2 linked regions of the Homo sapiens genome follow. The protein of the gene in region 2 purifies or fractionates together with the protein of the main gene of each other region. This does not show direct contact. Each region holds a gene or a part of one and is shown on either strand. Other genes may lie near its edges.

Evidence for each region. Proteins that work in one complex are often made in the same cells at the same time.
Region 1: the proteins of SNPH (region 2) and KIF2A purify together in Homo sapiens (affinity purification with western blotting, with the first as the bait; one study listed by BioGRID). This does not show direct contact.

Annotation. Positions count from the first base shown.
Region 1 is NC_000005.10:62,309,126-62,312,779, forward strand, and holds part of KIF2A (kinesin-like protein KIF2A), read left to right. Parts: intron 1-3,654. UniProt on the Homo sapiens protein: Plus end-directed microtubule-dependent motor required for normal brain development. May regulate microtubule dynamics during axonal growth. Required for normal progression through mitosis. Required for normal congress of chromosomes at the metaphase plate.
Region 2 is NC_000020.11:1,300,757-1,304,410, reverse strand, and holds part of SNPH (syntaphilin), read right to left. Parts: intron 1-3,654. UniProt on the Homo sapiens protein: Inhibits SNARE complex formation by absorbing free STX1A.

The DNA.
Region 1 (3,654 bases), on a different chromosome or scaffold from region 2:
ATACATTTTAATTTCTACGGAGCATATTTTATTTAAATTTATTGAACTTGAAGCAATTTTCGTTCTTTTCAGCCTTCACCTTCAGCCTATACCAGAAGTTCCCAGACATACAAGAGCTTTGTGTTCTTACATAAGTGCTACTAACCTAAAGCCACATTTCAAAAGCGGTTTGCCTATAAGAAATTAGGGAAGTCATCACAGTGTGTTATTATCCTAACCTATGGTCATGTATCTTTTTATGTGCCTCAGATGCATGATGGAGTTGGTGGAAGGCAGGAGATTAGTAGAGAACTTCGAAAGAACAGAAGGATCATTTGCATTGGACAGTAGTGTTTCACAATAGAAATTGATGTCTGGGAGAATGCCCCTCAAGCTTTCCCTTTTTCACTTTAAAGAAGCTTGTTTGCTTCCTCTCACTTCCATAACGTCTATATTGGATAAAACACTAGTGGTTATTATAACAAAAATAAACTTTGCAGTTGGAGGAACACTAATATCTGAGACAGTAGAAATGACATGAGTAAAGAAGGGCTGCTTCAGACCATTATTAACTGGTGACTTGATGTTTTTCTTTTGGCTTGCTGATGGCGATCCATGTCCCTATTTCAGACCACACTTTTCCCATCAGTGATACTCTTACACTAATAAACATATCCCAAGGGCAAACAGGTACACTAAAATGAGCTTATTCCTATCTTTCAAGACCATGATGAAAACTATCCTAATGAGTCTTCACTGATTACTAAAACCAGATGGCCAGTCAGCATCTGAATTCCTAAATCATTCTGTATTATTCATGAGACAGCATATTTCCTTAAGTATTAATGTTTGGGTCTGTAACTTTTTTTTTTCCACTCCTCTCAGCTCATACCTATGGGTACATATTCTTAATACTATGTTTTTAAACTGCATGGGGTAATGGGACTTACTAATAACTAATAATTCTTTTTTTTTTTTTTTTTGAGACAGAGTCTCGCTCTGTCAGTGGTGCGATCTCCGCTCACTACAACCTCTGCCTCCCAGGTTCAAGCGATTCTTATGCCTCAGCCTCCCAAGTAGCTGGGACTACAGGTGTGTGCCACCATGCCCGGCTAATTTTTGTATTTTTAGTAGTGACAGGTTTTTGCCACGTTGGCCAGGCTGGTCTCGAACTCCTGGCCTCAAGTGATCCACCCACCTCAGCCTCCCAAAGTACTGGGATTACAGGTGTGAACCACTGTGCCCAGCCTCTAATGACTCTTAAATTCCCTGAATGCATCTGTGTCATTACCCCCATTCCCACCCCCACTACTGGGATGTCTAGCAAAATTCCTTGCACATCGTTTTTGAATAAATCATACATTATTGGATTTTTTGTTTTCAAACATTTTAATTAATCATTAGAATGACATCTTAGCTGGAAGTGAAACCTTCCATCTGTGCTCCTCTGTACTGCTACCTCCCTACTCTGGCCCTCTACTTCCCGCTGGCCTGTTAGTCAGGAACTACAGCGTTAATTGAAATTGAGTGATCTGCTAAGGTTAATCTGACTTTTCTGGTTTTCTAAGGTTATCAGTGACAGGGGTTAGGCTTGGACTGCTAAGATTATTCTCTGCCACAGGAGATAACCTGGTATGAAATTGGACTGGTGTGTTTTCTTACATGTGTCTTCCTATTTTTCTGATTCAATTCCTTTCCCTTTTTAAAACCCACTGACTCTTAAAAAAACCTACAATCTTTCTGTCGTGTAGCTAGTTTGGTTTTTTTTTTCTTTTAGCTGTGCTGTTAACAGTTCTGTAGTAGCTGTGACTACCCTTTGGGGACTGGGGAAGAAATGGGAAATGTTGAACATTTGGAAGCTGCAGCTAATATGGGATTGTTCTTTGGGGGCGGGTCTCTTAGTCACAGTACTGTGACTGTATTGATACATGTAATCTGAAGAGAATCTTAGAATATTTCCACCAGAAAGGTTTTTGGAGATAAACTAGTTTTCATTTTTATAAATGTGGAAACTTGAGTCCCAGATCACCATAAGTGACTTATCTAGATTCATACAACTTGTCAATGGCAGCCAGGAACCTGACATGCTTAGCATAGAAATCAGACTATCAAGAACTATGACAGTAAAGGAGGAATTCTCTGTTATTTTGGAACCGTATACCGCTTTTTACAGCCCAGTCAAGATGTAGGAAATTGCTTCTTACTTCGGAGAAAGGCACCAGCGAGCAGTGTTACAGAGCTTGATTAGAATGATCCCTGGTAAGAAGTGCTATGTTACTACAAGTTCACCAAACCTAAAATTGTGGGAGGAAAGTATTCTTGTTTCTTAGTTAAGTATTGGTGTAAAGAGTTCCTTTTAACATCTGAAATCAAGAGGCAATTGAAGATTTCAAAGGACCCATCAGGAATTTTGGAGTTCAGGGCAGGCAAAGAAAATCTTTAGAAAAGATTTTAAATGGCCTAATTCTTTATATGCTTTGCCACATTTTTCTTCTGCTAGTTCATCTTTACACGTCACTATATAGGCTTCTGGAGAATAGCATGTGTAAATTTAAGTAATAAAGATGAACCATGTGGCAATACAGTTGTTCTTTAGGTACAATTATGTGATTGATTATGGGGGTGGGATGGAATAGGGGCATTTGTGACCTAATAGTTCCCTTTTCCCTGAGGACTAGGACGATAATGTTTCTGTATATGGATTTGTTAGGGCTTAATAGTTTTCCAAGTGCTTCAAGACATGTTAGCTAATTGGATCTTCACAGGAACTCTATGAGGTAAGCAGGATAGAAAGGTGGCAGATTATTGGTTTATAGGTGAAGAATCTGAGGTTGGATTATTTGCCAAGATCACATGGTTAATAAGGAGCATAGCCTGGGCCAAAGCCCGAATCCCTTCACTCCCAGCTCTCTAAGTGCTGCTGACAGATGTTTGCTGATTATGGTGTGAAGTTGTATACTTTAGTATTTCTTTCTGAGACATACAAACCCCTGTAGTAAAATTCTTTCCACTACTACCAAAGAAGCTCAAAAAACTTAAAATAGGCACTTATTGCTTCCAAAAGTACCACAGAAAGCCAGGAATCTGTATTCATTGCCTAGCCACTTGATTCTTATGACAAAGATTTTGAAACTCTGGGGAAAGGCTATGTGTCAACTTGTTTTATGTGTCATGATTGTTAAAATGCTAGAGAAAACAGCAAAGAGCCAGTTAAATCTGTGTCTGCTCAAATAAGACAAGGGGCAAGAGTGTGGAAAATCCAGAACAAGATTCCCTGAGAGATCATCTAGACCCCGTTCTTTCTAGTCAGAAGTATAGTTGTGATTAATATGACATTAATCTTTTGCAAAGTTTAATTCTTGGATTCAGCCATCTGCTTTAATTTTAACACATCTGTTTTGTAACCTAAAATAATTTTAAGGTGTTTGTTTATTTGTTTGTTTGTTTTGAGATTACGATTCTTAAGAATAGATACAAGTTTTAAACCTTGGATAAAACTAATTTTTATTCTTCTGGTTCAGTTGTAGAACAAATACAGGTTAAGTTGTCTTCCAGCTCTTTTAGATAAAGCAATATTAGTGGTTTTATAGTGCTAAGTGAAAAGAGACATTAGAATTTCACCATATTAAACTATCTCCCAAGAGTAATATGAGTGAGGGAAGTGTTCCTTTTAAA
Region 2 (3,654 bases):
TAAAGCAGGTTGCAGAAAGTTTCAGTGGAGGAATATTTGGCCAGAGACCCCAGGGGAGAGAAATGACAGCTTTCAATGTTGGGGGAGGCTGATGATTTTACATCATCCCTCATGCAGAGCGATGAGAAGTGGTGGGTGGAACGGGAGAGTGATAAGAACAGGGTGGCTCTCATCTATCCATGCTAGAAGCTTCTTTGTATCTTTGTATCTCCTTGTATCTTGTATCTTAAAGAGGAAAAGCTGAAAAGATCAACGAGAAAGGCATAGAGTTACTCCTGAGCGACGGGGGCAAGCACCAGGTGAACAAGATAGTCGGCAGACTCTTGTCCAGAAATGCTCAGGCTTTTCAAATTCCCGAGTCACAGATGAATCCAGGGGTGCAAGGGGAGGGAGGTAAGTTAGAAAAATATGCCATCAGGTCTAGAGGTAAAACCAGAGTGAGACAGAATGGCGACTGATTAACACCAGTGAGGAAGAAGGAAAATCATCCAGGAGACGTCAAACCCTGTCCTGGGCATTTTCGCTCACTTCCTAGTGGCAGCCCACATGAGCCCCCTCAGCCTAAACCCTACATTCCCATCCGTAAAATCTACAAATGCCGTGCCTGTCACTCTGGGGTTCATCAGCCCAGCAGAATGACCGTCCCAGATCAAGCACCATATACTTTTCAAAGCCAGATCAGAATTTTCCTTCAGGAAATGGGCCCAGGAATCTCATTCCACAATACGCTGGAGGGACTGGGGGCTGAGGGGATGCAGTGGCCATAAAGGTCAGCAATGGTGTCACCTAGAAGGGGCCCATCCACCCATCAGGACACAGCTGGAGCTGCTTAGAGTGCCAATAACAGACAAGGCAACAGGTACTGAGGGGCAGGAGATACTTGGCCTTCACCCTTCCTGCCTCCAGGTGGGGGGCCCACTCTAGGTAACCCTTTTGGCCTCTCACCCTGCTCCTCACTCACACCTCACCCTGGGAGAAAGAGTGAGTTTGAAAGAAGGAACTGGGCATGATCTGCTCAGCCAGTCTCTGCCTCTCTCTCCTTGGGGCCCAGCCAAACCCCAGGGAGCCATGGCTTCGAGCCCTGTCCACGCCTCAGTGGGCATCACATCTGAAGTGCGTCTTGAAGGGTAAGTCTGCCCAGGGAGCAAGATAGAAGGCAGGGCATCTCAAGTAGTGGGGACACAGATACGAAAGCACAGAGGTGCAAAAGCCATGGTGTCTTTGAGGAACAGAAGGTGGGCCACTGCAGGAAGCACAGGCATGAAACTCCATATGGAGAGAGTGTGGGGAGAGTGACAGTATTTCATGTAAAGACCTGCAATGGGTTCCTGTGGGAGTAACAGGCAGACAGTGACCAGGGAGTCAAGGTGTTAGCACACCTACACCAGGGCATCCTGCCCAAACCACACAGGGCAGATGGTCTGCTCTAAGCCATGGGGCTGGCCCTAGAAATGAAGCTGGGAGATGGGCCATCTGCTCCCTGAGGCATTAGTGCAAAAGGCCACGCAGATCCTGGGCATCATTGGGAAGATGAGGGAAAATAAAAATAGAAATCCTCCCTCTGCCGACAATGAAGCTCGCTGAATGCTACCCGTAACCGCCTGTAGTTTAAAACCACAACAAATCCAAACCGGATTGGCTGCTTGGCAGAGCTGTGGTCAAGAACGATGTGGTCATGCATACAGCGTGATCCCATTTATATGAAATGTCCAGAATAGACAAATCCATAGAGACAGAAAAATCAGTGGTTGCCAGGGACTATGGTGGTTGGAGAGAAACTGGCGGTGATTGCTAATGGGAATGGGGTTTATTTTGAGGTGATAGAAATATTGATGAAATTAGAAATTGGCGGTGATTGCTAATGGGAATGGGGTTTATTTTGAGGTGATAGAAATATTGATGAAATTAGAAATTGGCGGTGATTGCTAATGGGAATGGGGTTTATTTTGAGGTGATAGAAATATTGATGAAATTAGAAATTGGCGGTGATTGCTAATGGGAATGGGGTTTATTTTGAGGTGATAGAAATATTGATGAAATTAGAAACTGGCGGTGATTGCTAATGGGAATGGGGTTTATTTTGAGGTGATAGAAATATTGATGAAATTAGAAATTGGCGGTGATTGCTAATGGGAATGGGGTTTATTTTGAGGTGATAGAAATATTGATGAAATTAGAAACTGGCGGTGATTGCTAATGGGAATGGGGTTTATTTTGAGGTGATAGAAATATTGATGAAATTAGAAACTGGCGGTGATTGCTAATGGGAATGGGGTTTATTTTGAGGTGATAGAAATATTGATGAAATTAGAAATTGGCGGTGATTGCTAATGGGAATGGGGTTTATTTTGAGGTGATAGAAATATTGATGAAATTAGAAATTGGCGGTGATTGCTAATGGGAATGGGGTTTATTTTGAGGTGATAGAAATATTGATGAAATTAGAAATTGGCGGTGATTGCTAATGGGAATGGGGTTTATTTTGAGGTGATAGAAATATTGATGAAATTAGAAATTGGCGGTGATTGCTAATGGGAATGGGGTTTATTTTGAGGTGATAGAAATATTGATGAAATTAGAAATTGGCGGTGATTGCTAATGGGAATGGGGTTTATTTTGAGGTGATAGAAATATTGATGAAATTAGAAATTGGCGGTGATTGCTAATGGGAATGGGGTTTATTTTGAGGTGATAGAAATATTGATGAAATTAGAAATTGGCGGTGATTGCTAATGGGAATGGGGTTTATTTTGAGGTGATAGAAATATTTATGAAATTAGATAGTGGTAATGGTTGCAAAATTCTGTGACTAAACTAACAATCATCTAATTGTACACTTTTGATAGGTGAATTATATGGTATGTAAGTTACATTGCAATAAAGCTGCTGTATTAAAAAAAAAAAAGAAAGAAAAGAAAAAAGGAGCGATCATCGTGCCTGCTCTGAGCTCCAGCCCCACACAGCACCTTGGCCAGCTCACAATAGGCTGCATGTTTGCATAGACACAGTCCCGAGAAGGATAGTTAAGACAATGGGAGATCGACGCCCTGAAGTGTAGATCACAAAGATGAAGCCACTGGGCTTGGAGGGTAGAAGCTGGGAGGGTTGGGATTAAGCACTTGAGAATGAGCTCAGACGGCCTGCGGGGGCTCCTGGGAGACACCTGGGCTGGGGAGGAGCTCAGCAAAAGGCTTCTCATCATCATCCTCCACAGCAGGAAGTAGATGGCTTCTGGGGCCTGAAGTCGAGGTTGGCCACAAGCCCTCTGGTGACTCACTCAGGAGGAAGCGAGGAAGGATAAAGAGTTGTTTCTCCCCCAAAAGAGGCAAGTAAGTCAGAAAGAAGCCCTGTGCTCCAACTCCTGGAAGATGGGAGCCAGAGGAAAAGAAGCAGCCAAAGGAGCTGCCAGGCTGAAGCTGGGAAAGGACAGCACAGGCAGGAGGCCCCACAGGACAGGCCCTCATGGGAAACTGCTCCCGCCTGGCCCCCAACAGCCTCGTGGAGCAGTCAAGGTGAGTAGCTGCTGGGGATGAGGGTCTGCAAGTGGGCTCAAATGAGGCTTTGCTGGGAAGGAGAGAGCAGACGGATGCTGGGAGACCCCCAGCCACTCCTCCCTCCAAGAGGCACCCCAGAGCCCTGGTTTCCCTGAGTGTG